Linked DNA regions of Homo sapiens. The protein of the gene in region 7 purifies or fractionates together with the protein of the main gene of each other region. This does not show direct contact. Each region holds a gene or a part of one and is shown on either strand. Other genes may lie near its edges.

What was found.
Region 1: the proteins of PCDHA4 (region 7) and SYNGAP1 purify together in Homo sapiens (co-immunoprecipitation; one large-scale study listed by IntAct). This does not show direct contact.
Region 2: the proteins of PCDHA4 (region 7) and EIF2AK3 purify together in Homo sapiens (affinity purification with mass spectrometry; 2 studies listed by BioGRID and IntAct, with this or other methods). This does not show direct contact.
Region 3: the proteins of PCDHA4 (region 7) and LONP2 purify together in Homo sapiens (affinity purification with mass spectrometry; 2 studies listed by BioGRID and IntAct, with this or other methods). This does not show direct contact.
Region 4: the proteins of PCDHA4 (region 7) and POMT1 purify together in Homo sapiens (affinity purification with mass spectrometry; 2 studies listed by BioGRID and IntAct, with this or other methods). This does not show direct contact.
Region 5: the proteins of PCDHA4 (region 7) and LTAP1 purify together in Homo sapiens (affinity purification with mass spectrometry; one large-scale study listed by BioGRID and IntAct). This does not show direct contact.
Region 6: the proteins of PCDHA4 (region 7) and CACNA1C purify together in Homo sapiens (co-immunoprecipitation; one large-scale study listed by IntAct). This does not show direct contact.

Annotation. Positions count from the first base shown.
Region 1 is NC_000006.12:33,447,510-33,451,139, reverse strand, and holds part of SYNGAP1 (ras/Rap GTPase-activating protein SynGAP), read right to left. Parts: intron 3,311-3,630; coding exon of another isoform or gene 3,298-3,310; coding exon 3,207-3,297; coding exon of another isoform or gene 3,204-3,206; intron 2,352-3,203; coding exon of another isoform or gene 2,337-2,351; exon of another isoform or gene 1-2,336. UniProt on the Homo sapiens protein: Major constituent of the PSD essential for postsynaptic signaling. Inhibitory regulator of the Ras-cAMP pathway.
Region 2 is NC_000002.12:88,571,965-88,575,464, forward strand, and holds part of EIF2AK3 (eukaryotic translation initiation factor 2-alpha kinase 3 isoform 1 precursor), read right to left. Parts: exon of another isoform or gene 3,483-3,500; coding exon 2,702-3,482; exon of another isoform or gene 2,550-2,701; intron 1-2,549. UniProt on the Homo sapiens protein: Metabolic-stress sensing protein kinase that phosphorylates the alpha subunit of eukaryotic translation initiation factor 2 (EIF2S1/eIF-2-alpha) in response to various stress, such as unfolded protein response (UPR).
Region 3 is NC_000016.10:48,267,805-48,272,076, reverse strand, and holds part of LONP2 (lon protease homolog 2, peroxisomal), read right to left. Parts: intron 2,062-4,272; coding exon 1,803-2,061; intron 1-1,802. UniProt on the Homo sapiens protein: ATP-dependent serine protease that mediates the selective degradation of misfolded and unassembled polypeptides in the peroxisomal matrix.
Region 4 is NC_000009.12:131,508,961-131,513,232, reverse strand, and holds part of POMT1 (protein O-mannosyl-transferase 1), read right to left. Parts: coding exon 4,211-4,272; intron 3,491-4,210; coding exon 3,425-3,490; intron 3,331-3,424; coding exon 3,237-3,330; coding exon of another isoform or gene 3,092-3,236; intron 2,974-3,091; coding exon 2,818-2,973; intron 1,897-2,817; coding exon 1,766-1,896; coding exon of another isoform or gene 1,761-1,765; intron 1,193-1,760; coding exon 1,097-1,192; intron 1-1,096. UniProt on the Homo sapiens protein: Transfers mannosyl residues to the hydroxyl group of serine or threonine residues. Coexpression of both POMT1 and POMT2 is necessary for enzyme activity, expression of either POMT1 or POMT2 alone is insufficient.
Region 5 is NC_000001.11:154,210,569-154,214,840, forward strand, and holds part of LTAP1 (protein C1orf43), read right to left. Parts: intron 4,007-4,272; coding exon 3,889-4,006; intron 3,379-3,888; coding exon 3,325-3,378; intron 2,057-3,324; coding exon 1,890-2,056; intron 1,811-1,889; coding exon 1,752-1,810; coding exon of another isoform or gene 1,748-1,751; exon of another isoform or gene 893-1,747; intron 1-892. UniProt on the Homo sapiens protein: General regulator of phagocytosis. Required to uptake Gram negative bacterium by macrophages.
Region 6 is NC_000012.12:2,059,205-2,063,476, forward strand, and holds part of CACNA1C (voltage-dependent L-type calcium channel subunit alpha-1C), read left to right. Parts: intron 1-4,272. UniProt on the Homo sapiens protein: Pore-forming, alpha-1C subunit of the voltage-gated calcium channel that gives rise to L-type calcium currents. Mediates influx of calcium ions into the cytoplasm, and thereby triggers calcium release from the sarcoplasm.
Region 7 is NC_000005.10:140,981,093-140,985,364, forward strand, and holds part of PCDHA4 (protocadherin alpha-4 isoform 1 precursor), read left to right. Parts: intron 1-1,382; coding exon 1,383-1,471; intron 1,472-4,272. Other genes in the region: PCDHA1 (protocadherin alpha-1 isoform 1 precursor), read left to right, coding at 1,383-1,471; PCDHA2 (protocadherin alpha-2 isoform 1 precursor), read left to right, coding at 1,383-1,471; PCDHA3 (protocadherin alpha-3 isoform 1 precursor), read left to right, coding at 1,383-1,471; PCDHA5 (protocadherin alpha-5 isoform 1 precursor), read left to right, coding at 1,383-1,471; PCDHA6 (protocadherin alpha-6 isoform 1 precursor), read left to right, coding at 1,383-1,471; PCDHA7 (protocadherin alpha-7 isoform 1 precursor), read left to right, coding at 1,383-1,471; PCDHA8 (protocadherin alpha-8 isoform 1 precursor), read left to right, coding at 1,383-1,471; PCDHA9 (protocadherin alpha-9 isoform 1 precursor), read left to right, coding at 1,383-1,471; PCDHA10 (protocadherin alpha-10 isoform 1 precursor), read left to right, coding at 1,383-1,471; PCDHA11 (protocadherin alpha-11 isoform 1 precursor), read left to right, coding at 1,383-1,471; and 4 more. UniProt on the Homo sapiens protein: Calcium-dependent cell-adhesion protein involved in cells self-recognition and non-self discrimination. Thereby, it is involved in the establishment and maintenance of specific neuronal connections in the brain.

The DNA.
Region 1 (3,630 bases), on a different chromosome or scaffold from region 7:
ATTCATTAATGCATGCTCCCTGAGGAGTGGAAAAAGCCTTGTTCATCGAGTTCTGTATATATTTTGAAGACATGCATTTCATTAAATAGACACTGTCATTCCGTTTGTCACTTATTCACAGTGGCCATCTTCTCAAATATAACATTCCAAATTAGAGAGAGGTTTAACTGTACTGGGGGGAAAGGAAGGGGATTCAGGGAAGTGATATGGGAAGGGAAAAATCTTGTGGGAGGGCTGCCCCTCTCTCTCACAATTATGGCGGAAATGACTAGGAGCTTCTGCAGACACAGCATGCCCCAATCTCTGCATCCCTGGGAAGCAGAAACTGGCTTTATTCTTTTCCACTCCCATCTTCTTTTCAGTCCTTCTCCCTGGGCTCCCAATTAGAGGGTGAGGGGTACCAGACCAGCTCCTACCCCTGGTTCTACTCTCATCACCTCCTATAGCTCCTTGACCAACTCCTGGTTCCTGCCCTTAGCTCCGCCTTCTGTTCCTCTGCTGGGAGAAAAGAAAGCCATCTGAATTTCCCTACGCTTCTGGTTGGGAAATTCACTTCCTTCTCTCTTTGGCTGTTGTAATTATCTGGGGTTTGTACTGTACATGTCCGTGTGTGTGTGTGTGGGCTGGGGGCAACACTTGGCTTTTTAAAATTCAGGCTCAAAACTAATTTCTAATTAATGGCTGAGTTGCAGAGAGACCAATACCTACCACAAGTGGTTTAGAACAAATGTCCAAATTATTTCCTGGGCCACATGGCATTTAGGCTTGGTAATATAGCTATGTCTGACCTTAGGATACAAAACCTTCCAAGTAAAAGCTTCTATATAAGCTCTCCCTTCCATCCTAGGATCAAGGAGCTAACCTCTCAGATCACCCAAACCCCAGCCTTGGGTATGAGATACCCAGCAAAACTGCCTTCTTAGCTTGCTGGGTATCTCACACATTTTCTGCAAGTCAGTGAGAGGAAATCACTTATGGTAGGGTATCCTGAGTATGGCGGGAGAGCAGGGAAGGAACCCCCAGATTCCATTCCCTCTGTTTGTCTGCTGGTGACAGCACATAAGCATGCCCTGGACACCCCCATGGACCCAAATTTAGAAAGTGGATAAATTAGGGTGCCATTATTCATTTTACAAAAGAATTCACTGCAGGAGTCCTTTAAATGGCAAAGTCCCCTGGTGCCTTTTAGCATCTTTATAGATCACCAGCTACTTTGACAGAGAGGCTGGGCAGGCAGAGAATTAAAATTACAGTGTAAGGAGCCACTGCCCACTGCAGCTCAATCCCAAAGAAAATCGCATCTCAGAAATGATGGCTATAGCTGACAGGTTCTCATTTACTGGCTTTTTAGGTAGGGTGATGTGTCCGGCAAGGCCACTCGATGGCAGGAGAGGGGGAGTGAGTGGCATCAGCAACCTGGGGATGTGAGCTGTGAAGAGTACATTCTTTACCATGCTGTTCCTGGCACCTCTCCCTGGGAATCAACATGCCTACTGAGCCCACGATCTGATCTAGGAGGATGTCTCTCCCCATTTCTAAACTCCCAGGCCACATGATCAAGTCCATGTCCTAACATCTGCCTGAGGTTCCTTTCTTGCTCCTTCTTGTTCCATCCACCCTGCCTAATGTCAGGACATCTCAATAGCATTTTTTCCAGGGTATCTCAAGTCTCCCTGAGTTAACTACCCACTCCTAATTCCCACCCAATGGGGGCTAATATGAGCTTCAGATGCCTTCTGCCTCACAGATATAAGGAGGAGGAAGAGAGAGAATCAGGTGAGGAGTGGAAAGGAGGGTAGAGAACCAAGATTAGGGAAGGAAGAGGGAAACCCAACCTACCTGCTGCAGTCAGCACAGCCCCTATAGCCAAGATCCTCCAACCCATCATTGCCTCCACCCCATTAACAAACCCACCCCCAGCCCCTAAGGACGCTCTGGTGAAATGGGGGGTGACAGACATACACTGGAGAGGTAGAGGAAGAGGAGGGCTTAGAGTCAGGAGGAGGCTGGGAGGGGGTGGGTTTTGCAGGGAAGTGGGTGTGACCTGTGAATGTGCTGGGCCCATCTAGGGCCCAACTCTTGGTGTTGCTAAGGTATTGTTGGACAGTTCTGGGAAGCAGCAGCAAATGCTCTCTTTGGGTGGTGTCTTGGGAGATGGATCTGTGCAGGTGTCGGAGGGCTGGAGTCTGTGGAGGTTCTCTGGGTGTGGAGGGCAGCAGTGAGAGGGGAGAGGCTCCGGAGGTGTTGGAGGGAGTGGGCTTCACGACCAACCTGCAGTGGTCCGGAGTCACCTCCCCCTGTGTCCTCCGCCCGTGGCCAAAGCGGAACCAGGAGAATTACCTGATGAGGAGCTGCAGTGGGAGAGAGTGGGGTCATGGGGTCAGGAGCCTTGGTGGGGGGATGGCAGGCGGGGGGAGCCTAGCAGTCAGAGCAAAGAGGAGTATGGGTAGGAAAATGAGCAGAATTTTGGGAAAGCAAGGGGTAAGGGTGCAGAAGGGAGGTCCTAGAAGCTGGCTTGTGAGAAGAGAGGCTGGGCAGCAGGCAGCTGGGAAGGTCTGAGGGCCAGAGTGGGAGGGAGGCCAGAGGGAGGCTGGACTTAAATACTGAGGGCAAAGGGAGGTTACAGGATGGAAGGCCTTCAAGATCTGAAGAGTCAGGAAGAGGAAGCTATGCAGGAGCTGCCAAGGAGACAGGAAAATTAGGGAGCCAAGAGAACAGAGGTGATGGGTCCCCAAGTTTTCAGGGTACCGGCCAGGGCCTGGAGAAACTACAGATCATACTGCCCTGTGCTCTATTCCAGAAAACGGCAGCTTCTAGCCCTCTGGCCCAAGAGCGCAGAGGAAGCTGAACAACGTGGCTTGAATAGGAGTGAGCAAAGAAGGGGCAGGGGTTCTTGGAACTAGGTGGGGTCTAGGGGCAGAAAGACCAAGGTTCTGGTAGAGAAGGTCCTGAGATGCAGAGAGGAGTGGGAAGACTGGATGGGAAGGCACAGGAGTTGGGCTGACGCTGCCAGGAGTGACAAAGGCACAGACGATGGGATGAAGATGGGGTCACTAGGGGGCTGCCAGGAGCAGCCAGTGGACAAACAGCAGACTATGAGAGACAGATGGTGATGGGGCTAGGTGGCTGGTGTAGTGAGTGCACGAAAGACAGTGGGATGGATGGGGATGGGACACGGAGAAGATAAATGACATTGTAATTTCCACCTGAGCGTCGAGCAGCCTCTTCTTGGGTTCTGGCAGCGGCTCAGCCATGGCGGGGTGGTCCCGGCGCAGCTCCTCCTCCACCAGCATCAGCCTGAAGGGACGGGCTTCAGTGGGGTTAGTGGCGGGCACAGGCTCAGAGCCTGCCCATGGAACCCCATAGCTCTCTGGAAAAACCTCAGGCATCCTTATCCCTTAGAATCAGAGTCCCTCCATTGCCGTGATGCAAGACTCCCTGTTCCTCAGGATCATGCTCTCCACCTTCCTCCCAGGAACCCTTACACCTCCCTGCTAAGGCAGCTTTCTGTGCCTCAAAGACTTCTACCATCCAGACACCTCCAGGCCTCCATCGTCCCAATCAGGACAGCAGTGCCCCTTCCCCAGACCTTCCATGGCTGAGGACCTGGCTTCTGCATCCCCCATGTCA
Region 2 (3,500 bases), on a different chromosome or scaffold from region 7:
CTCTGCGGGTAATATGACCACCATTCATAGCCCTTGAAATGAGGAAAAAGGAAGCCATTTAGCTCATGAAATTGAATTTCATCATGTTTCAAATACTGCCAGAAAATAACATTGCATTCCCAAACTCTAAAATACCATTAAACGATTTTGACTTGGAAGCATGAAGTTATTGTGTATAAGATCTATGGTAATAATCTGCAGCTCTCCAATAAATAACTTTGTACCAGAGGCAATAATAGACTATCCTGCATTAAATGTCATCTTTCTTCCCAACTCCCAACATCTGATGGCAGTTGTTATTTACTGAACCCTATAATAGACAAGCTTTTTGGCTCTCCAGTATCTATCTCCCTGTGCTTCCAGCAGAAGTATCTTGACTTTACTTTGGGAACTTCCTTCTTGCTGACTGTGCAGCAAAACCCCACGGTTAGTGTGGAAGGCATCCATGCTCTAAAAGTTGCTTACGCCAATCCATGGAATCCCATTGCCTGGCTAGGGATTGTTGAGGGATGGGTAGGTGTCCTTGGTTTAAGTAGAATAAAATTTCTGATAGTGGGAAAAAGCAATACTTTTCTCTCCACCCTCTACCCCACCAACTCCAAAAGACTTAAATAGAAACAAGAAATGGGGAGGACAGAAACCAGGTTCTGGCTAAATCACTTGATCTCAGCTAAAGCTTTACCTGAATTCTCAACAGTTTAGCCATGTGGGCCAACAGATTTCCTTTTCTGGTTAAGTCAGTATAAACACTTTTGAGTGCAAAGAAAATAAAATTCAAAATAAATGGTATGACCATCTAGAACATTCAGGCATTGTACTGAGACTATAACAGGTAAAAGAAACAGATATGGTTCATACCCCATAGAAACCACAGAATAAATAATCCAGGTGTGATGAGAATAATGAAGAAGGACCAGGTTTCTGTCAGAACAGTGTATATCAAGAGGAACTGAGAAAAGTTCAGAGTGGAGAAAATAGAAGACTAGAAGTTAGTCTGAAGAGGCAGGAGCCAAAGTCCTGAAGACAAAAATGTGACCAAAATATAACAGGGGGAGAGGGCCTAGAAGGTTTAACATTGAGCTCAAAGATTTAGGTCAGAACGTAGCAAAATGTACAGCTTTTTCACCCAGGAACAAAAATCTTGGCTTTTTTTTTTTTTTTGGTTGGGGGTGGCGCACTAGAAATCTTTAAAAGGAATTGTCTTCTATTTAGAAAGGAATAAAACTTTCTGATTTCTAGAAAAACTAACAGGAATATTAACTTTCTTCTTGCAATTTTTCTGGTGCATAGACAATTACAGAAAAATCTTTAGACAACATTGTAGCATTAAATGGATATTTACCAATATCTCATTTACATTATAAAATTAGCAGAAGAATATTCATTATTAGTGAAAACATGATTCATTGTCTTTCAAGTTGGCATTTGTGTGTACAGCAAGTGTTAAGTACAAGAAGAATGTGTATTTCAGCTAGCTGTTTCCCACCTAGTGATAAGCGTTTACTATATTCAAACCTAACTGCTAGTATTCTCTCAAATTAGGGGTGTGTGGTCTCCTGTAAACTGTCTTCTCCAATCCAACCAAATAATTCATCTCTGAACTTTTCATTCAGTGCAGAACAATTCTTGGCAATCAGTTTGGGCCCACGTCAAAATCACTGAAGCATAATGATTTATATGACTAAATAACAATTATATTAAAAAATAAGAATTATTTCTAATTCCTATTCTTGTTACCCTAAAACTCTTAAAATATACCCAAGAATTTGAAAACCTACTGCTGATTTTAGAAGAAAATAACTTGTGTCCAAATAGCTACTTTTGTGCCTGAAACAAGTCTGTTTTAAGTCTGAAAAGACTTAAAATGGATCCACATCTATCAAGACTTTAAGCTACTTTCATCAGAAAAGTATTTATACATTCACTCCACATCTACTGGTGATGGCTAAGAGTATATGGAATGTGGGAAATTAGTTAAATAAAAGTTCCATGTACTTATTTTTAGAAACACTACTACGGAAATGTCATGTTTTAGTAAGACTCTTTAATAATTTTGCATATTATATTACTGCAAAATTCACTACTGAATATATTGAAAATAGAATCCAAGGTTTTAGAGCTGTAAACAGTCATCTGTTAACTATTTGCTACCTTTCCCCATTCGGCTTCTTACCCCTTCCCCCAAAGTCTAAACAGTTCAGAAAAAGAAGCAAAAGTGTGGAGATTTGCCCCAATTCAAGCTGGCTAATGAAGGAACCCATGTCTCTCCTTCCATTCGGATCCCTTTCACCATGCTGCTTCAGAGCCCTGGAGGTATTGGTGTCAGGGTTACTCAAAACCATAGAAAAACAAAAACAAACAAACAAACAAAAAAACAGGCTATATCTGCTCATGGTGGATTTTACCTAAAGATTCTTTTTTCTTTTTTTTCCCTCACCTGGACTACTGAGAATACCTTTTACAGTAAAATGAACACAAACACATTACTGAAGACAATGAATGCATGGTTTGCCTAAAGTTTTCAGACATAAGACTTCTTATTCTTGCAGCAGGCCCCTTCGAGGCTACTTTCTCAGACCTCTGCTCTCAGATGCTTTTACTCTCCCCAACTCTTAAGGATCCTTCAGAGTACTGCAAGTACTGCTCTGAATCACAAAACGTCAGATTGAAACCCCAAGGGTGATGCTCCACAAATACAGACCTTGAGGTCCCTGTGCATCAGTCCTTTACTGTGAAGAAACTCCACTGCCTCTGCGATCTGCAGGAAGATGTGCAGACACACGCTCCTCTCTCTCTCCTCTATGGTACATCGTCCATTCATCCAGTCTTTGAGGTTTTCTTTTCTGCACAGCTGCATTTGAATGTAAAGATACACCTTTGGTGAACTGGGCTGGAGTTTTTCTGTGGTGTTTTTAGTGAGATCTAAACTTAAAGTGGTTGGTCTTGGAGGAGAAATAGACAATGTAGCTTCAGAAGAAGATTTGCTACTGGTGGGCTTGAAAGCAGTTAGTTTATTAGCACAATGGTTGCCAATATGCAATCGATTAGTTTTCGGCTCTTCTTTACTGGAAGCATTATCACAGCCAGAATCTTCAAATACTATTGAAGAGGAGGTTCTCTCCCTTGACCTTACATAAGGAGAAGCTTCAGAAGGACAAAGTTCAAAGGAGTGCCCCTCATCATTGCCATCCATAGTCCCATCTTCCACATCACAGTCTGTAAGGCAACTGTCCTGGAGGTTGTATGCTGCATCCACTGACTCACTGATGTCCTCATGGTCCATTCCTGAGAATTCCAGTGGTGAGAACTGGCTCTCAGATGAACTTGTCTGGTCACAGGAAATCCCTACTGAAAAAGACCTGCTTCTTTGTGGTGAAGGAGCTATGATTTCAATATGTTCTTTTGTAGCGAAAGGATCCATTCTGCGTATTTTAACTGATGGTGCATCCATTGGGCTAGGAGAGCTGAGTGGCCAGTCTGTGCTAAAAGTGGGAGAAATA
Region 3 (4,272 bases), on a different chromosome or scaffold from region 7:
TAAGAACAAATTACCTACATGTCACGTGCTTATGATGTCAATTTCACATAGCATTAATTCCACGAACTCACTCTCTAAATGCCATCAAATACTTACTCTGTAGCTAAAATTAGAAGATTTAGGCCCTAGACGCAGCTTCTTTGAGTTTGGTCCAAGAGAAATGCCAATTCCTTTACGAAAGCAAACTATAGCCTCTAGTGGTACATGCAAGAATAAGAAGTCTAGGCAACAAAAATATCTTTTGAAATTGCCAGAAGAAATCACCCAAATCAATTCTCTACTCTGATCTGCACGCCTCATTGTTTATTTACTAAAATCTTGTGATGAGTCTTTTTTAAAATTTATTATTATTATTTTTTTAGAGATGGGGTGTCACCAAGTTGCCCAGGCTGTTCTTGAACTCCTGAGCTCAAGCAACTGCCTGCCTTGGCCTCCCAAAGTGCTGGGATTACAGGCATGAGCTACTACACAAGGCCAGTAATGATACTTTTTAAATGCGTAAGAATTTTAAGTGAGCAAATAAAAGAGAATAAAAATAACCATTTCTTATAGAAAAGTTTCTGAAACAGTTTCCCATCCCTGTCTATGGATAGGGATCCCTTTGAATAAGGCACATAGAAAACAAGATATTAAAAAAGCATCATATTCTTTTATAAGCAGTTCATGGTTCCTACATTTAAACATGTTCTTTAACACATACACTATAGGTATGTTTTCTCACAACTTACAATTGCTATGAATCCCTTAAACCACGAAATGTAAATTCATGCTTTCCCAAGGCAATTTCCATCAGATCAACAAAGAGACCAGTGAGAACAATGAATGCAACATGCAAATCTGATTCTAATAATGTCAGATTAATCAGAAACAGTTTTGTTGTTGTTTGTTTGTTTGTTTGTTTGAGATAATGTCTCTGTCTCCAGGCTGGCGTGCAGTGGGACAATCATGGCTTACTGCAGCCTGGACCTTCCCAGGCCTAAATGATTCTCCCATCTCAGCCTCCTGAGTAGCTGGGACCACAGGTGCATGCCACTGTGCCTGCATAATTTTTTAATTTTTGTGGAGACAAAAATTAAAATTTAAAATTAAAAAATTTAAATATAAATTTTGTAGAGACAAAAGTGTTTCCCTATGTTGCCCCGGCTGGTCTCAAACTGTTAGGCTCAAACAATCCACCCACCTCAGCCTCCCAAAGTGTTAGGATTACAGGCATGAGCCACTGTGCCCAGCCTAGAGGGACAGTTCTTACAGTTTATTGTTTTTTTATAGAAAGTGAGTCCAAAATGCAAGAATAAGCCTTAATAATTATGCTAACATTTATCCTTATTACTCATATTCATAATACAAACCAACCTTCATAAGAGGAAGTTTAGACTGCAATCAGAACAAGTTTGTTATCAAAGACTTCTCACCTCCTCCTATTGGCCCTCCCTATTGCAGTTACTTTTTTTAACTCTGAGAGTTAGGGATCATTATTTATGGCATGCTACTGGGTTGAAAAGAGTGTAAAGACATAATAATATCCAATCATAAATAACTTATAATTACATTCAAATGAGATTCCAGGAAAGTTGAGGCACAGAGTAGTATCCACTGTCATACAAATCAAGGTTAGTTTGGGTTTATCATTACGCTTAGAGGCTCTAGGCTAGCTGATACTTCTTGTAAATGTCCTTTTCATTCAAGGTACCACACATAGCCCTTTAAGGAAAATAGATGTATGCTATGCCTAAGCTTTTAGGGAGCTCTAGTCAATTAAAAAGAAAGAGGAATCAGAGATTAAACTGAGAGAAGTGTTCTACCTGTGTCCTCGAATGTCAGACTGATCACATACTCCTCCAAGTGCAATCCTGTGGAACTCTCGACCTAGAGTCTTGGCCACTGATCTTCCCACACTTGTTTTACCAACTCCAGGAGGGCCAACAAAGCATAGGATTGGGCCCTTCAGGTTATTTTTGAGCTGTCTGACAGCCAAGTATTCCAGTACTCTTTTCTTCAATTTTTCCATGGCGTAATGGTCATTATCCAGAAGAATCCGGGCTGCCCTAATGTCCAGGCGGTCTGTCAAATAACCCAACAGAAATAATTAGAACACATAAAATTTTTAAGTTAAAGAACTCCTTTCAAGCATGACGAGGGCAAAATATTTTTTTTGAAAATAGATGTGATAAGAACAGACTTGGATCTTTCTAGATGAGGATTCTAGGAGATCTGCATTTGGTTTGGTTTCTCTGCTTAAGACTTAGTGTCCCCAGAGATAGTAGGCACTACACAATTAAAAACTCAATGTTCATATCATTTTATTTGGAATGATTTTCTAGTTATGCATTACTTCTTAATTTCTACATATTGTATGTGTGCTGGCATTTGTTTTTTAAAAAAAAGGGTGATTTTTTTCCTTATTTCAGTAGTAACATATGTTCATTCCAGAAAACCTGATAACACTAACAGAAAAGAAGAAAACAGTTACCCATAATCTCATGCCCCCAAGAGATCACCACTACCTTTACTTCAGTATGTGTAATTCCAGGCTGTGTGCGTGCATTTACAAACCTATTTTTCAAAATGGGATTTTATGGGGCCTTTAAGTTTTGTAAAATGTTTTTTTCACTTAATATATGACAGACAACTTTCACTGTCACACATATATTTATCAGTAACATTCTATGGTTACTTAATGTTCCATTACTAAATTATCTATATTCATTTAACTAATTCCCTACTGCTGAGCATTCAAGTTGTTTACACATCTTTACATTTATAAAAGATGCTTCAACTGTGCATCACTGGAACTAAATCTTCCCATATATCTGCAATGATTTCTTTCAGCTTATCTTCTATGAACAGAAGTGCTGGGTCAAAAAAAAAAAAAAAAACAGATGATGTAAAGAATTGCCTAATTGCCACACAGAAAGTTGTATCAAAGTCTCACCAGAAGTGTATGAGTTAGGCTTTGTTTCTAGAGCCAAGCTTTCAACAGGTTTACTAATAAGATTTAGCATTTAAAATACTCAGATTAAACACCAGGTAACAGAAGCCAAAATGAATTCACTAGCTGGGTGGCTGCCAGGGTATAATACACAGCCACCTGATCATGCTGGCAGTGAAAGAAGAAGATGGGAGAGAGAAATACACAGAAATCTTTTAATTAATTAATACATATCTTTTAATTAATTATTTAGAATTTGCTAAGGATATTTCATAAAGGAAAAAAATGGCCTGAGATGGTAATTTGGTTCCCAAGCTAGTCCCCCAAAAAACCTAGCTAAGCAGTAAACTATATAATTTAATTATAGTACTATTGATTTTAGTCAGAGTCCTAGGTGAGTGAAGTAGGAGAAGAACAACTAAAATTTCTTCCCCCTTTCCTGGCTCCAGAACCCAACCAATGAATATATGAAGAAGTGAAAGATAGAGAGTTTCTCAATTGTTTCACAGTGCTAGCCCTGACACTAAAACCTACCACAGTAAACATAAAAGAAAACCTCAGACAAATCTTTTTATATAGCTGTAAATATTAAAATGCTAGTAAATCAAATCTATAAAGAATAATATACTAAGTCCCAGTGGGATTTATTTTAGTTATGCAAACATGGTTCAGTGTTAGGTCATCAATGTCATCATGTTCAAGAAGAGTAAGTTTCCATCAAAATATCATCTTGTACCTAAAAAGGTACTTGTTATAATGCGTTATCCATTCATGATTAACACATTCAGTAAGGTAAGAATAAAAGTCAAGATAATTTAGAAAAGACTGAAAACACTGTGAAGAAATTTCTTGCAAGAAATATGCCAAGTAAAGACAATTTTAAAAGTTCTTTCAATCTTTTAAGTAAAGGTGATTTCCATGCTGTATAAATTATTTTCTATCTTTTCTATACAGGATATATTTTTCTAATTATTCTCTTTAATGATTCAGAAAGCATGCTTCCTGTTTTGAATAACATGTGATTACATGTAAAAAATTTTTCAAATTTCAATATAAATTTCCTTATTTATAATTAGAAGATTGAAATGGTATCTACTGACTCCTCTAAGCTGGGAAAATCTGCAAACATATTTCCTACAACTCTTTCCTCTCTGCTTTCCTTTTTGTTTTCGGTTACTATCTGAGATCTCTACTTGGTAGGTAAACTTCTCTTTCAGAAATTATGAATGGGGGGCCAGGCTCGGTGGCTCACACCTGTAATCCCAACACTTTGGGAGGCCGAGGTGGGAGGATCACTTGAGGTCAGGAGTTCGAGACCAGCCTGGCCAACATGGTGAAACCCC
Region 4 (4,272 bases), on a different chromosome or scaffold from region 7:
GACACAGTGCTGTCGGGACCACACAGAGCCTGGTCCCCTCGAACTAACAGCTGCACCGGAGGGGCACAGCTCTGAATTCTCATGGCTGAGACTGCCTCCCAACCCATGTGTGCCTCACATGAGGTGAACACAGGAAACCAAAGCACAGACATTAATTGGGCTCTTTTCTGAAACCAAAGGTCATTTTCCGAATGTGATTCTACCCGCGGTCATCACACCTGCATTGCTCTGAATTTGTCTACAAACACTACAGTGACAAATGTACCATGACTGCCAAGGAATCCTTCTGAAGGGCATTCCACCAATGAAAGTGTATGAGGGGGCCGGGCGTGGTGGCTCACACCTGCAATCCCAGCACTTTGGGAGGCTGAGCTGGGTGGACCACTTGATGTCAGGAGTTCAAGACCAGCCTGGCCAACATGGTGAAACCCCGTCTCTACTAAAAATACAAAAATTACCAGGATGTGGTGGTGGGCGCCTGTAATCTTATCTACTCGGGAGGCTGAGGCAGGAGAATCACTTGAACCCGGGAAGCGGAGGTTGCAGTGAGCCGAGATCGTACCACTGCACTCCAGCCTGGGCAACAGGGTGGGACTCTGTCCCCCGAAAAAATAAGAAGAAAAAAAAGAAAAAGCCCACTCGGGCTGCAGGTGCTGGAGCTGGGCAGGCAGCAATGGGAGGACACCATCAGGAGACAGTGACCGGGACAGCTAGAGACCTTGTTTGGGGGCAGAATCCACAGGACTGGATATGGGAATGAGAGCAAGGGGCACCTCTAGCTGGGATGTGTGCAAGATGATGCTACTTTTGCAGGAGGGGGGTTCTTGTTTTTATGAGGAAGGGAGAGGGACACAGGTCGGGGCATTGAGGCTCGCCTGGAAACTTCTCAGAGCAGCTACTGAGCAGGCTGCTCACTGAGGGTCTCATGATCTATTCCTCTGACCTTGGACTCAGCACTGAGCTGGTGTTCAAGGCCATGACGGTGACTAGAGTCAGTGAGGGAGGGAAAGAAGGGGGCCCAGGACTGCATCCCAGGGTCTCGCCTGGCCAGGCCAGGAGGTGAGCTCTGCTCTGGAGTCACAGGACCTGCACTCACCTCCTGGGATCCTTTACAATCCACCAGTTATTGACATCTTTGAAGGGGTAACAGGTCACCTGTTGCTGGTGGGAGCTGCCTCGGCCGTTCTCATATCTGTGTGAAGTCAACAAAGAGATGTATCTGGGCCAGGCGCGGTGGCTCAGGCCTGTAATCAGAGCACTTTGGGAGGCTGAGGTAGGATAACTGCTTGAGCCCAGGAGTTTGAGACCAGCCTGGGCAACATAGTGAGACCCTGTGTCTATTTATGAGAAAAAGAAAAGAAAGGGAAAGAAACGTATCTGGAAGTGGGTCATCGATCGGGCCCACACGCCTTTCTCCTAAAGTTTCTGCAAAGGGAAGCAGATTTCAACAAATACAACCTAGCAAGGGGTTTCAGGGAAAATGAAGATACCACAGACAAGGAGCCGAAATCAGATGATTCAGGCAGGCAGTGCTGAGGTCAGCCACAGCCACAGAGCTGGGGCCGACCCTGGGCCCTGCCACACGCCAAGTCCCTCCAGCAACACCCGGGAACCACGAAGCTCACTGGCAATCAGCACCCGGGCTGCTCAACTTCTTTCTGTCCTGCAAACAAACTTCCTCAAAGAAAGGGAAAGTTGCTAAGATAAGCAAATCTACGAGCAAATAAAGCATTTAATTATCTTCAAAGTAAAACCATCACCTTACATCATGGGGTAGGTGTCCTGGTGGGAATGAAGCCAGCAGGGCACAGGTTTCCCAAAGACGTTCCTCAGAGTGACCTGGGACCCAAAGGCCACCTCCAGTGGCTGACCCTGAGTGATCCGAGCTAGTCCTCCCTGAGACAGAAGCAGAAGGTTGATGAGTGAGAGACAGAAAGAAAAATGACCCTAAGCCAGCCTTCCCGATGGCCACTCCTCCCTCTGGGGTGATGTTTAGGCTGGTGGCCATTCTTGTAACAGTGGTAATGATCTCCCATTTAATCACATCACGTTACATTATAGAACCATAATGAGCACTAAGTCTGATCAAATGCTGCCTCTGGGCCAGGCACTCAGTTCAGCCTTCCACGCGCACCCTATTCAGTCCTTACAAGCATCCAATGAGGTAAGAGCAATGATGATGTCTGTCTAAGAGATGAGAAAACCAAGACTAGGGTGAGCCAAACAACTTGCTGAAACACACAGCACTACAGCACTGGCCGTCGGCAGGCTTGGCTGACTTCAGGAACCACAGTCCTGACCACCTCTACTGATACCTTCTACCACTGCTGCGAGGTTCATAGGAATGAAGGTCACAGTTGAGTGTGGTCCTTAAGGCGGGTGAAACTGCCCAGGGTTTGTAAGACTTGACTTTAAAATGCTCCCAGCTGCCAGGCGCGGTGGCTCACGCCTATAATCCCAGCACTTTGAGAGGCCGAGGCAGGCGGATCACTTGAGGTCAGGAGTTCCAGACCAGACTGACCAACATGGTGAAACCCCATCTCTACCAACAAAACAAAAAAATTAGCTGGGTGTGGTTGCAGGTGCTTGTAATACCAGCTACTTGGGAGGCTGAGGTAGGAGAATCGCTTGAAGCCAGGAGGCGGAGTTTGGGTGACAGAGTAAGACTCCATCCCCCCCACCAAAAAAAGAAATATGGATGTGGATTCTTCATGTTTTGATTCAAGTGCTAATGTTCACTTGATGTGTTTGTAAGAAAACTCTGGGTCCACTATCATCTTCCTTCTCCAGTGGCCACGATGCCCACTGCTTACTTACCTCTAAGCTGGCCTGGAAGGCACTGGACATGATTTGGTCGTGGGGCCCAGAGCGGAAGACTAGAATCAAGTGGACGTAGAAGAACAGTAAGTACAGGACGACCGGGATGACCAGCAAAGCCACTGCTCGGGCGAGCAAGTGACAGAACACACAGACCTGCCAGAGATTCAAAGAAAAGTCATGTTCCACTGCGTGGAAAAGCGTACCCACCTCTAGACATTGTGAGCTTAGAAAAAGTTAGTGACAGAAACTCTGGCCTCCCATACAGAGGCACCTGCAGAGGCCAAGAGGCGAGGCTGCCCAGGCCTGCCTGCTTCTAAAACATTGAGGATTGGAGTCTTTTCACCAAGTACCCCCTGTGACATCTGCATCTGCCCCATACAGGCCGGCCTCATGCAGCACTGGACATCAGCACCTACATTGGACAAAGTCTGGTCTCCAAGCAGGTGCCAGGCATGGACAGCTGCAACACCCAGCACGAGCACGTACGTGAACACACCCATGTACTTGATGCTGCAAAGACATGACAGAAATGGAGTTAACATGAGACAGGAAAACATAAGGAGATGGAGGAGGACACTGCCCAAGACCAGAGGCTCAAACTCACCCCACTGCACAGGAACAAGCGACCCCTGTCAGTGTTAGCCAGAACCACCAGCTCAGAGAAAAAGGGCTGGAATAAAAACAAAGCAGATGGAGACAGAAATAGTTCAGACACATTTCCAAAAGGCTAGTGAAGCTCCACATTCTTCAGAGAAATCTTTCTGGGTCGGCTGGCCATGCTGAGCCACAGGGGCAGTAAGAAAGAATTCCCATCTCCCAAAGTATCCATCCCAGCAGAATTTTTCTTTTTGCCCAGAAAATGTTGTCCTGTTAGTTTAAATTATAGAAAAATGAAGATGTATTTATGAAGTCACAAGCCAAGGGCCAACCCCCAAAATATTAGAGGACCAAAAGATATCTAGCACTAGGCGCAGAGGCTCACACCTGTAATCCCCACACTTTGGGAGGCCAAGACGGGTAGATCACCTGAGGTCAGGAGTTTGAGACCAGCCTGGCCAATATGGTGAAACCCCGTCTCCACTAAAAATACTAAAATTAGCCAGACATGGTGCTGTGTGCCTGTAATCTCAGCTACTCGGGAGACTGAGGCTGGAGAATTGCTTGAACCTGGGAAGCGGAGGTTGCAGTGAGCCGAGATTGCGCCATTACACTCCAGCCTGGGTGACAGGGACTCCGTCTCAAAAAAAAAGATATTTAGCAAGCAACTCCTCAAAATGAAAAGGTACTGTCTCACAAAACGAAACAAAAAAAGGTACTGGACCATCTCAGATCAACAAACCACCCAGAATCTCTGTTCTCGTTAACTAGGAAGACACTCCATTTTCCATACCTGTGCTTTTGGCAGTTGAAGAACTTCAGGTAGGACAACACGGCCAATAGATTGAAAAATAT
Region 5 (4,272 bases), on a different chromosome or scaffold from region 7:
CCAGGTTCAAGCGATTCTCCTGCCTCACCTTCCTGAGTGGCTGGCATTACAGGTGCGCACATCATCATGCCCGGCTAATTTTTGTATTTTTGTAGAGATGGGGTTTCACCATGTTGGTTAAGCTGGTCTTGAACTCCTGACCTTAGATGATCCACCTGCCTCGGCCTCCCAGTGTTGGGATTACAGGTGTGAGCCACTGCGCCCGGCCTAAGTTTTTACTCTAGATTGGCTTTCCTTTCTCGCCAAGAACTTTGATTTTAACATTTGCATGAAAATACGAGACTATGTTTAGTGTGTATTAAAAACATTCCCAAACAAAAGCCATGAATCCTCTCCTGTGACACAAATGCTCAACAGCTGACTCTATAGCGATGGCCTTTGTTTCAGACATGGTTACTAATACTTTAAGTGGTAGTAAAAATAGATTTTTTTAATTTTTAATTTTTATTTTTTTTTTGAGACAGTCATGCTCTTGTCACCCCAGCTGAAGTGCAATGGCATGATATCGGCTCATTGCAACCTCCACCTCCCGGGTTCAAGTGATTTCTGCCTCAGCCTCCCGAGTAGCTGGTATTACAGGAGCCCGCCAGCATGCCCAGCTAATTTTTGTATTTTCAGTAAAGACGAGGTTTCACCATGTTGGCCAGGCTGGTCTTGAACTCCTGACCTTGTGATCCACCCTCCTCGGCCTCCCAAAGTGCTGGGATTATAGGCGTGAGCCACCGCGCCCGGCCAAAAATAGATGTTATTTAATTCTTTTTTTTTTTTTTTTTTTTTTTTTTTTTTTGAGATGGAGTCTTGCTCTGTCACCAGGCTGGAGTGCAGTGGCGTGATCTCAGCTCACTGCAACCTCTGCCTCCTGGGGTCAAGCGATTCTCCTGCCTCAGCCACCCGAGTAGCTGAGATTACAGGCACGCACCACCATGCCCAGCTAATTTTTGTATTTTTAGTAGAGACAGGGTTTCACCTTGTTGGCTAGGATGGTCTTGATCTCTTGACCTCATGATTCGCCTGCCTCGGCCTCCCAAAGTGCTGGGATTACAGGCGTGAGCCACCGCGCCCGGCCCAATGTTATTTAATTCTTACTTTTATTGGGCCAAGACACAAAAGGGACGCTGAGACTCTGAAGAGAAGGAATCCCTGTGTGTGCTGAAAAACTATTCCCTTTGCTAGGCTACACCAATTTTGACATTTTATTGGGCTAAACAAAAGACAAGAAAAATGCACACAAGAAAAATGCTAGTAAAAACTTCTTTTACTAGCTTGTATAGTTGCATCTGCTTTCTTTTCTTCTTTTTTTTTTTTGAGACAGAGTTTCACTTTTGTTGCCCAGGCTGGAGTATAATGGCACGATCTTGGCTCACCGCAACCTCCGCCTCCCGGGTTCAAGAGATTCTCCTGCCTCAGCCTCCCCAGAAGCTAGGATTACAGGCATGCGCCACCACGCCCGGCTAATTTTGTATTTTTAGTAGAGAACGGGGTTTCTCCATGTTGGTCAGGCTGGTCTCGGATTCCCAACCTCAGATGATCCTCCCGCCTCGGCCTCCCAAAGTGCTGGGATTATAGGCGTGAACCACTGTGCCCGGCCGCATCTGCTTTCTAATGTAAGAGACTGATCTAATAGTCTAGAACCTGACAACTCTTATGGTATCATGGATTTTGTTTATATGCTTTATGAAGGTCACTGCACTGTGGCAACAGTCCAACACTACTGTACCAGCTCCCTCTGACACGTTCCCCTCCAAACTCACGCAGTGGCCAGCTCACTCAGGGCCTCCTGATAGCGTAGGTACTCATTCTGGCCAAAGACCTTAGGAAAGAGAAAGGAAGAGTGAGGATCTCTCAGTCTGAGGGATCTCTTTAGTGCCCCGAAGAAAAAACTGGCTTACCCCTGTCCCATAGCGGGCTGTTTCATAGCCATCCAAAAGGGTATCAATGAGTGCTTTGCGTACACCCTTGAAAGGCGTACTAGTGTTTCGCAGATCCAGCAGGTAGGAGCGGAAATTCTTGCCCATTAAGGAACGGGGATGCCGGCCTTCAGAATGAAATGGGATCTCTGTGGAGAAAACAGCACAATGATATCTCTTCTCATTCTTTAGTCTTTTTTTTTGAGATGGAGTCTCGCTCTGTCACCCGGGCTGGAGTGCAGTGGCAGTGATCTTGGCTCACTGCAACCTCCACCTCCTAGGTTTGAGCAATTCTCTAGTCTCAGCCTCCTGATTAGCTGGGATTACAGATGTGCACCACCATGCCAGGCTTATTTTTGTATTTTTAGTAGAGACAAAAATACAAAAGGGTTTCACCTTGTTGGCTAGGTTGGTCTTGAACTCCTGGCCTCCTGTGATCTGTCTGCCTCGCCCTCCCAAAGCGTTGGGATTACAGGCATGAGCCACTGCGCCTGCCCCATTCTTTAGTCTTTCTAGTTAATTCCCCAAACTTAGAAGTAGGTCTAATGAAGCTGGGCGCAGTGGCTCACGCCTGTAATTACAGCAATTTGGGAGGCCGGGGCAGGCAGATCACCTGAGGTCAGGAGTTTGAGACCAGCCTGGCCAACATGGTGAAAACCTGTCCCTACTAAAAATACAAAAATTAACCAGGCATGGTGGTAGGTACCTGTAATCCCAGCTACTCGGGAGGCTGAGGCAGGAGAACCGCTTGAACCCAGGAGGTGGAGGTTGTGGTGAGCCAAGATCGTGCTACTGCACTCCAGCCTGGGCAACAGAGCAAGACTCCGTCTCAAAAATAAAAAGAAATAGGTCTAATGAAATGAGCAAGTTGAGTTAGAGGGAGATTCTGATTGAGACCAAAGGTATAAAGCTGTGCCTGAGTGGTCATTTGGTGGTAACACCACAGTTGTAAGCTACATCTATGACACATGATAGTGTCATCACACATTTTACCATCCTGCTTACTCATCCATCCTAGGTTTAAGATATAAACTGTTTTCATAGAGATAAAGCATATATGACAAGTGTTGACAGAATGGAAAAAATTCAAGAACAATCTATCTTGGGCTTAGTGAAAAAGCAGGTGCCACCTGTCCTTTGTGGAAAAACAAGCAAATTACTATCATCTACTTCATGAAACTAAAGGTCTCAAGAGAAGAACTTTAAAAAACAAAACACCCAGACTCTTTGGAGAATAACCTGCTTATATCATTTCCTTCAGCAAAATCTCTAATCTAGTACTTTCAAAACTCTAGAATTTCCTACTAGCCAGGGATGTGCAGAAAGGACAAATCCTAACATACAAAGTGGGTTCATTACTCTGTTCCCTAGGTGGGCTTTCAGGATCCTAGAATGGACCCTGTCAGGTAGCCCTTACCAGAGGTACGAATGGCATCCAGAGCTTTCATCCTATACAGATAGTTGTAGCAACCTGTTGAGGAAAAGACTGGTGTTAGGCATAACCCTAAAAATATTCCCCAGGCTGGGCGTGGTGGCTCATGCCTGTAATCCCAACACTTTGGGAGGCTGAGGTGGGTGGATCACCTGAGGTCAGGAGTTTGAGACCAGCCTGACCAACATGGAGAAACCCCGTCTCTAGTAAAAACACAAAATTAGCCAGGCGTGGTGGCGCATGCCTGTAATCCCAGCTACTCAGGAGGCTGAGGTAGAAGAATTGCTTGAACAAGGGGGTGGAGGTTGCAGTGAGCTGAGACTGCACCATTGCACTCCAGCCTGGGCAACAAGAGTGAAACTCCATCTCAAAAAAGAAAAAAAAAATTCCCCAAACTCCAGCAAGCTAATAAATGGGCTCTGCATCTAACATATATCCAATAACAGGAATAACTAAGGCTTTGCCAGCAGCTTTTGACAACTCTGAGAGAAAAGGAATTCTGGACTTGTGGGACTCCTCACTGAAGCATTCCAAGAGCTTGCCACATACTTTGATTTCCCTGGGTTTCCAGTTGTAGTAGTCTAGCATCATCATCTGCAAGGAGCTGGGGCTCATACTTGATATCCTGAACCCTGGAGAGTCGAATATCAATCTCCTCTTTCAAGTCCTGTTCACATAAAAAAAGAATACACAATCATTTACCCTGCACTCTGCTTTCCACCAATGTGAAAATGGGGCAGAGTTAATGAATAACTAAGACAACAGAAATAGAGACCATGCTCATGTAGTTAATAAAATTACCAGATAAGAGGTAAGAATTTAGGAAAGAACGGGATTGGGTTTTCCAATAACCTCTCCAAGCTGCACATCTCTAAGCTAGAACATTTAACTTGTGCCAGAAATCCTTCAAGCTATACAGCACCAACATTATTT
Region 6 (4,272 bases), on a different chromosome or scaffold from region 7:
TGGAGCCTCCGAGAGCTGAGATGCAGAAGGTGAGGGGAAGCCAGAGGAGCCCCAACTCCCTAGGGTGTCTGGGAGGGTTTGGGGAACAAGGTCATCAGGGTAGTCAGTTACTCCTTGTGGAGCTGAACTGAATTTAAGTTGGGATTGTAGGGACTGTAGGAGAGAAGTTTGGGCCTGGAGCTCAGGAGTCGGACCGAGGTTGAAAATAGACCCTTCCTTCCCTGGAAGCCGAGGGAACTAGAGGAAGGGTTCATCTGGCTGAAGCAGAGGGTGAGGAAAGCGGGGGTTAACTGGCAAGAAACCCAAACCTCTCAGCCCCTCCCCTCCCCAAAACCCCACAGAACAGTTCTCTGCAAAACACCTTCACTTTAAAATGGGCTTCTTGTGCTATACCCTGTGTGTATAGGGGGCAAGGGGCTAGGCTCTGGTTCGTTAAAGGGTTTGTCAAACATAGAATAAATGTAATGTCTCTTTGGGAATTTACTTTCTAGGATCAGGACATTTTATGGGTAAAGGAACCTTAGAGACAATCCTCATTTCCAGTTGAGAAAACAGAGGCCCCTAAAGGTTCATGGAGGCAGGGATGTAACTAAATACAAGGTCTTCAGTCTCTTCATCCTCCTGCCTGTACCACACTTGGTGCTGGCCCCCTGAGAGAGCATTGTTAGTGCTTCTGGCTAAATTTTGCTTGGTAGATCTTTCAACCTCTCTATTCTTCCTCCCCCTGCCTCCACCTTTGTACTGCCTTAAAATAATTTCTGCGATGTTAGATTTAGGAATGGAGTTGGAAGGGTGGGGTGGGGGAAATCTATCATTGGAAAGGTTTAAAAACACTTTCTTAGGCTACAGAGTAGAAGTTCATACATGTCCACAAGAAACTCCTGCAAAATTCAGATCACGATTTTGTCTGCAAACAGATCTGCCTCTAAGCCTTTTTTATTTGCTCACTTCCTCTCGGCCCCAATCTAGGCTTGTTTCAGCCCCTTTGCGAGAGTGGGATGGGGATGGGAAGCCGGGCTGTGCTGTGGGACTTCCCTGGTGAGCTGCTGGGATTCTTCATGGACCAGCTGGCATTACCAGTAGCTGGGGTATAGACACACAGATCAGCCCCAGGGTAGAGACTGTGAGACAGGCTGCCACAGACTCCACCTGAGCTGGGCGACCAAGGGCGTCTTTCTGCTCCCATGTCAGGGTTGGTCTCCTAGGACCCCCGGCCTACTCCCAGGAGACATTCCCAGCAGTGGTGGTAGACTCAGCCCATGGAAGAGAATCACTAGGACCTGCCTCTGACATTCCCATCTTCCTTGAAGTGTTCATTGGCTGACTTGTTTCATACTCTTTCAAGTCATCTCTGAGAAACTGGAAGGCCTCTGAGGCTGACTCGGTCTAGCTTGAAGACGGAGGCATGAGCCAGGCTCATGCTTAGAGATGTGGCTTTTGAGTTCCCTGGAGGAAGCCATCATTTCAGAACATAGTGTTGTGATAATTTCATGAAATATTCAAGCTGCCAATTTGCCAACAGGGGTTTCTTTTAATACACTCGGCTACACTTGGTGTTGCCCACTTGAACCTAGCTAAAAGGAAAATAAAATAATCTTGTCTCCTGTCCTTTAGAGAACCAAGCCAAAATCTAGACAGTGAATGAATGTTCTTCTCCATATTGCCTGTGGGCAGAAATGTTGACTTGAGTACTCAATTAAGCTCTATTTACTTTATAACCATTGTGTCATGTACAGTCATTTATATTCCTTTCTTTCTTCCAAAATAATCTACGTTGGGCTAAAACCTTTCAAAGACATTAACAAAAGTAACAAAGTAAATAGCTAAAGAATAAATAAGGCTGTAGGCTAGAGAAATGACTTGGGTCTTGGGTCACATTCTTTGACTTCATCTCTTTCTCTGAGAGTTCAGAAGGAATCAAATCCCTTTTTTTTTTTTTGTCTGTAAAGTGGAGATAATAATCCTTAGCCAATTCACTTCGCAGGGCAGCTGTGAGGATCCAAATAGGAGAATGAGTGTATATCGCTGTTCAAACATCAGCTACTCTTATTCTCCCCATCAGCGAGCAGAGCACCAGAGTTTGGAAAAGCAACGCCATGAAGTAACATTCACAGCATTTCAAACAACTTTGGAGGTGTTGTGGGAGGGCTGACATTATTCAATATTTTAAAGGTGAAAATGTAAAACAAAGAGAAACCAGAGTCTGAGGTGGTCTGGCTGATACCAGAATAATCAGGGAGGAAGTGAACCATTGGTTGAGATGGGCCTGGTATTTTGCCCTCCAGAGAGTCTAGGAGCCTGTGGCCAGTAGGCTCCCAGGACGGTGGAGCCATGTGCACTGCTGGCACTGCTGCTGTTTCCAAGCTGAGGGTGAGGACATGGGGATGCAGGGTATCCGACGCCTGGCAGCTGTCCACCTGCCATGCTGCTGTCCCCTCACTGCCACCACACATGGCTGCCTGGCTTCGGCCTCAAGTCCAAAGCCACGCTGGCCTGAAGTCCTTTCATGGCCTGAAAATAGGGCCATTGAGGGCAGGAAGAACACCACCTGGGCAACCAATGTCTCCTCACTTTTGAACGTGAATTCCCCAAACCTAAACCCAACTTCCCAGTACAGGAGGACGGGCTGGAAAATAAAACTTTGCTTCAAAAGTAAACTTTGGGTTTGGAAAATAAACTTATTTATTTTTCATAGCCAAAATGTTGCAGGTTTGGAGATAGAGGGGACAGTTCTGTGTAGCTCCCTAAGACACTGATCAAAATAGGAAAGAGCTTTAACATTATAGTCTAAGTGACAGGATTAGTTTTAGTTTCCCAAAGCAAAAATAATCCCATCATCAAAAAGTATGCTGGGAAACTTTCGCACTTTCGCATTTGTTTGCACCTTGTTCTACCCCCAGCTCTGGTCCTGTGATCTGTGGAGCCATATATGTTTTAATTTTTCTCTAAAGAAAAAAAGCTGTATTGAGGTATAACATCTACCTTGTTATAATTTTAAAATAGAGCAAGAGTAATAGCCACCATTTATTGAATGCCTAGCATGTGTTAGACAATGTTCTTGGTGCTTCATGTGCTTAATATGTTTTATCCTTACAGTAATCCTACCACGTGGGTTTTAATTATATTTTTTAGATAAGGAAACTGAGGACCAAAGTCTTAAGCAATGTGGCCACAGCCACCCAGACAGTGTTGGGGCTGGGAATTAAATTCAGGTCTGTCGGACTTTCAAAACATTTGCTCTTTCTGTTACTTCTCCCCATGGAGAACAGTAGAAAGAGAAACCCACTATCTCTCTATCCTGGGAAAATGACCTTGTCCTTGCCTTCTGGAACCTGGCTTAGATTTGCCTTGTGGAAGCTCAGAGCTGGAATCCTTGTTCTTACTTGATGGCTGCATGTTGTCGTGGTACCCCGCCTCCCCTCCTGGTCCCGTCCTCTGGCTTTCTTTCCCCTTATTCCCAGGGTTTCTGCCAGGGCCCTCCTTGCTTCTTCACATCTCCTCACAGGCCTTCACAGACCACCTAGGTCAGTACACCTTGTCTCCCGGGGGACCCATTTGTGGCATGGCCTTGCTTCACCACCCATTCTTGGAATATTTCCTCAGTCACTCCCTCCAGGAAAATAGACACTCTCCATTCTCAAACGAGATTCCCGTGAGTCCCGGGGACCATCCCTGTAAGCTGAGCTCTCCAGACTTCATGCATTATTTATTTATTTATTTTGAAATAGCAGCTTTGTTGAGGTATAATTCGCATACCGTAAAATTTACCCTTTTGATGTGTATGATTCAGTGGTCTACCTACTTCCCCAATATTTTCATCACCCGCAAAAAATACCCTTTACCCATTGGTAGTCACTTTTCATTCCCCTCTCTCTCCAGCCCTTGGCAACCATGAATTTACTTTTGTCTCTATGGATTTTCATGTGTTATTGACAGCAATAATAATTCCTTTTTTTTTTTTTTCCTGAGGTGTAGTCTCGCTCTGTCACCAGGCTGGAGTGCAGTGGTACGATCTCGTCTCACTGCAACCTCCGACTCCCTGGTTCAAGCGATTCTCCTGCCTCAGTCTCCTGAGTAGCTGGGACTACAGGCACCCACCACCATGCCTGGCTTATTTTTGTATTTTTAGTAGAGATGGGATTTCACCATGTTGGCCAGGATGGTCTCCATCTCCTGACCTCTTGATCCACCCGCTTGGCCTCCCAAAGTGCTGGGATTACAGGCGTGAACCACTGTGCCCAGCCAACAGCAATAATAATTCTACAGTTGGAG
Region 7 (4,272 bases):
TAATGAGTGAATTTCTACTGGATATGTTGTTTGAAGTCAAAGAGTGAGAAAACATTGAACTTATATGTTGCCTTCCCTCTAATAGTTCAAGTTTGCCTGCTCTGTTGCCTCATATAACCCCTTTAGTCAGTAGTCTAAATTTTATTTTAGAAATTTAACTTTCAAGATAAGCAAATGTCTAGTTTAAAAGGGTCCTCTAGTCTAGGTGTAGTGGCTCATGCCTGTAATCCCAGCACTTTGGGAGGGTGAGGCAGGTGGATCACTTGAGGTCAGGAGTTCAAGACCAGCCTGGTCAATATGGTGAAAACCTGTCTCTACTAAAAATACAAAAATGAGCCAGGCATGGTGGCGGGTGCCTGTAGTCCCAGCTACTTGGGAGGCTGAGGCAGGAGAATTGCTTGAACCTGGGAGGCAGAGGTTGCAGTGAGCTGAGATCGTGCCACTGTACTCCAGCCTGAGTGACAGAGTGAGGCTTTGTCTCAAAAATAAATAAAATAAAACAAAATGTTCCTCTAATTTTGATGAGGGTTTTCTTGGACATTTTCTCTTAGGATCCCACTTATTTCTTCCTTCCTTTCTTCCTTCCTCCCTTCCATCATTCATTCATTCATTCATTCATTCATCCAACAAATATTTGAGAGATTAATATGAGTTAGTATTAGACATACATAAATGAATACTGCACCATGTTCTCTTTTCCCTTGAACAGTTTATGTTCTATCTCTGCTTGCCTCTAAAGGTCTCCCAGTTTGTATCTCACTCCCAGCAATGTTTTATGCTGAATTAATCTCTTCTGAGCGGGGATCTGTGAGTGGTGGTGATCAAGTTTCTCTAGTCTCAGGAAATATAGGGTGGGTCATCTATGCATAAAAGATATAGAAAGAGTAAAATAGAAAATAAGGTTAAGAATTAATTAGATAGCCAAATTGGAACAATACTCCAATTATCAGAAAATATTTTAGTGTGTTTTCTTCTTTAGAGTAGAGAACCTAGGAACAAGAGAACCTGCAAGAGAGGCTTGGAACTTTTGAGAACAAGCCCTCCTCATCTGCTTCAGTATCGAGATGTTAAAATGGCTTAGTCCTCTGATGGGCTTCCTGTTAGATTTAGTGAGCGCCACATGGCGTTAATAAAAAACAGAATTGCCATAAAGATAGAACATGTGTGTTCCTGGAATAGTATAGCAGGCAATAAGTAAGTCAGCAATGCTTCTGCAGTTTATGCAGGGTGACTGCTCAGCAGTAATTGCTTCAGTTCAAGCATGAGCAGAATGTGTTAGCTGCAGCCCTGGCTTCATAGTTGTAAGCAATTTCTGAGGGTGGAAGAAGAGATGGGAAAGAATTTATGATCTAACCGTTATCTGGGTCTGTGTGTTTATTCAGCTCTGTGCACCTAGAGGAGGCTGGCATTCTACGGGCTGGTCCAGGAGGGCCTGATCAGCAGTGGCCAACAGTATCCAGTGCAACACCAGGTAAAGAGCTGGGGTCTCTCCATTCTTTCTTGGTTTCTGGAAAGTGATCAGATGACCTACTTTTGTAAGATCAGGAATGTTGATGGCTCTTTTTCTTTTATATTTTTGTTATTCCCTTTTTTCCATACATACATGATTTCCTTACATATATGATTATTTTGATTTTATACCTAATGCTCTTCAGGAGTTGAAAAAGGATAACAAGGAAAGTGTGTGTGCACGCATGTGTGCATGTGTGTGTGTGTGTATGAAGTTTTTGGGGTTTGTTTGTTTGTTTAAATCAGGTACCTTTCAAATGCTTAGGTCATCCAAGCCATGCAGAGAAGATCTGGTGGCCTTATGCACAGAGATGACACTGTTAACAAAGATCTTTTGGTTGAAGACTATGGAAACCCACCCAAAGTAGTAAGGAAAGAAAGAGAAAAAGAAGGAAAGAAAGAAAAAGGAAGGAAGGAAGGAAGATGGTTTCTCATGGAAGTGGAAAATTATCGGAACCAAGGCATTGTTTTGAGTTCAAGTCAAAGTCAATCTGCTTCTCTCTGCACATCAACAACATTCTGCAGACTGACTTTTAGTGCCTTGGCATGCATGTTGCCAAACATGACCGCCTCACAATTTCTTAGTTTAGAGGGATAATAGGGACTATTTCCTAATCCAAACTTTCAGGAAAGAGAACCTGCTAAGTTGTGTAAAAAACCTAATGGCTGGGTGAGTATAGGAAAATTGCTTAAACTCACATTTGCTTGGTATCCTTATTCTTGCCCTATCACTAAAGCAGGGTCATGTAATAGAAATATGGCTTTGGAGGCCCATCGCTGTGGCAGTTTTCAGAAAGGGAAGATTAAGTGTTGGTAGAGACCACAAATTGTGTCTACTCTAATCCTCTATTAATAGAACATCATGATGATAATAGTAGTTACTAATTATTAAGCCATAATATGCCTAGACACTGTGCCAAGTACATTGTATGTGTGGTCTCATTTATTCCTTAAGTCAAGCTTGCAAGGGATTTATTACATCTATTCTACATATGAGAAACTGGAGAGGCAGAGAGATTAAGAAATGTACCCAAGTTCACGTAGCTTGTAAGTGGCAGAGGGTAGGATTCAAACCCAGATGTGTTTAGTTTCAAATCCAAGTATATCTAGCACTTATATTCATAACATGGCTGGCTTGCAATAATCCATTCAAATTCAAATACATATCTACATACATAACAGATGACAGAATGTGTGTGTAAAAGGTTTTTTCCCAAAAATAATCAGATGCCTTTCAAATTATTAAGTAACATGCAGCTAAGGGCCCATTTTTACTGGCAACTTTAAGGGCATTCGTTGATTCTAATCAGCCAGGATTTGCTATTTATGGATGTTGCACAATTCAACTAAAAGTCACATTTGTCCAAAAAATATACGAGTTGAAGCAATTCATTAGAGAGCTAATATTGCCAGATTGCAAGGGGAAAAACATAAAATAGTTCATTGACAAATCTGTACCCTCAGTGCCAACGATGGAGTGAAGAAATGATGGAGGAGGAAGTGGTTTTAGACTGCCAAGTGTTGCAGGATGTGGAGGCATCTGGGAAGGTGAGAACTTCCCAAAGAAGCCACGTGAAATCATGACTTTCTACCTTGCCTTTATTTCAGAGTTTTTCTTGCTCTTATGGAGGCATTGTAGGTCGACCTGGTAAGCCACAAACTAACTTTGAATACATTCTCCCTCCCATTGGTGATGCTGGTTGGTGTGTATTCCTAGGCAAATGTGGAATAGGAACCATGTATTGATATTTCATACATCTGGCCAAGTCCCTCTTTCAGATTCAAAAAATGTTGAGAACCTATCTTTTTTACAGAGATAGAGAAGGGGATCTCCCTTGTTCCCTTTCTTACTGTCCCAGCCCCTCTTGTATAACCCATTTTATCCAGAACTGTGCCTGGCTGCTGATGCATGAGTCACAGTCTTCATGGACTGTGCTGGATAGAGCTTACATCTTCCAACTACTCCATGGCAACCTAATCATACTTTTCAATACATACCTCTGCATCAGTGGTGTAAAGTTAAAGGGATTCTCTGCCTTCTCCCTGTCCTTCTGGTACTTTTAGGTTTTTAGGACTCAATATATGTTCTGCACTGCTTGGAGGGAATATGGCATAAAGATTAAGATTATGATTTAGAGTCAGATTTGAGTTGAATTCTAATCCCAAGCTTACTTGCTGGGTGAGCATAGACAAACTGCCTGAATTCATATTTTCTTAATTACCCTTTCTGTAAATTGGGTGTAGTAATAATAATAACACCTATTTTATTGAGTTACCATGAGAACTAAAGGAGAAAAAAAGAACTGAGCATAGTGCTTGACATATAGTTAATAAATGTCTAATCTTTTTTTTTTGAGACAGAGTCTCGCTCTGTCCCCCAGGCTGGAGTCCAGTGGCACGATATCGGCTCACAGCAACCTCTGCCTCCTGGGTTCAAGTGATTCTCCTGCCTCAGCCTCCTGAGTAGCTGAGACTACAGGCGTGTGCCACCAAGCCTGGCTAATTTTTTGTGTTTTTAGTAAAGACGGGGTTTCACCGTGTTAGCCAGGATTGTCTCAATCTCCTGACCTCGTAATCCGCCTGCCTCGGTCTCCCAAAGTGTTGGGATTACAGGCGTGAGCCACCGCGCCTGGCCTAATCTTCTTACTCTTTTTTCTTTCTGGACTACTTTTCTGCAATCTATGATATAGTGTTGGCTGATAGCCTGGTGGCCAGAATTCAGTAGTTCTCATTTGCAGGCCCAGATATAGACCCTCTGAGGTT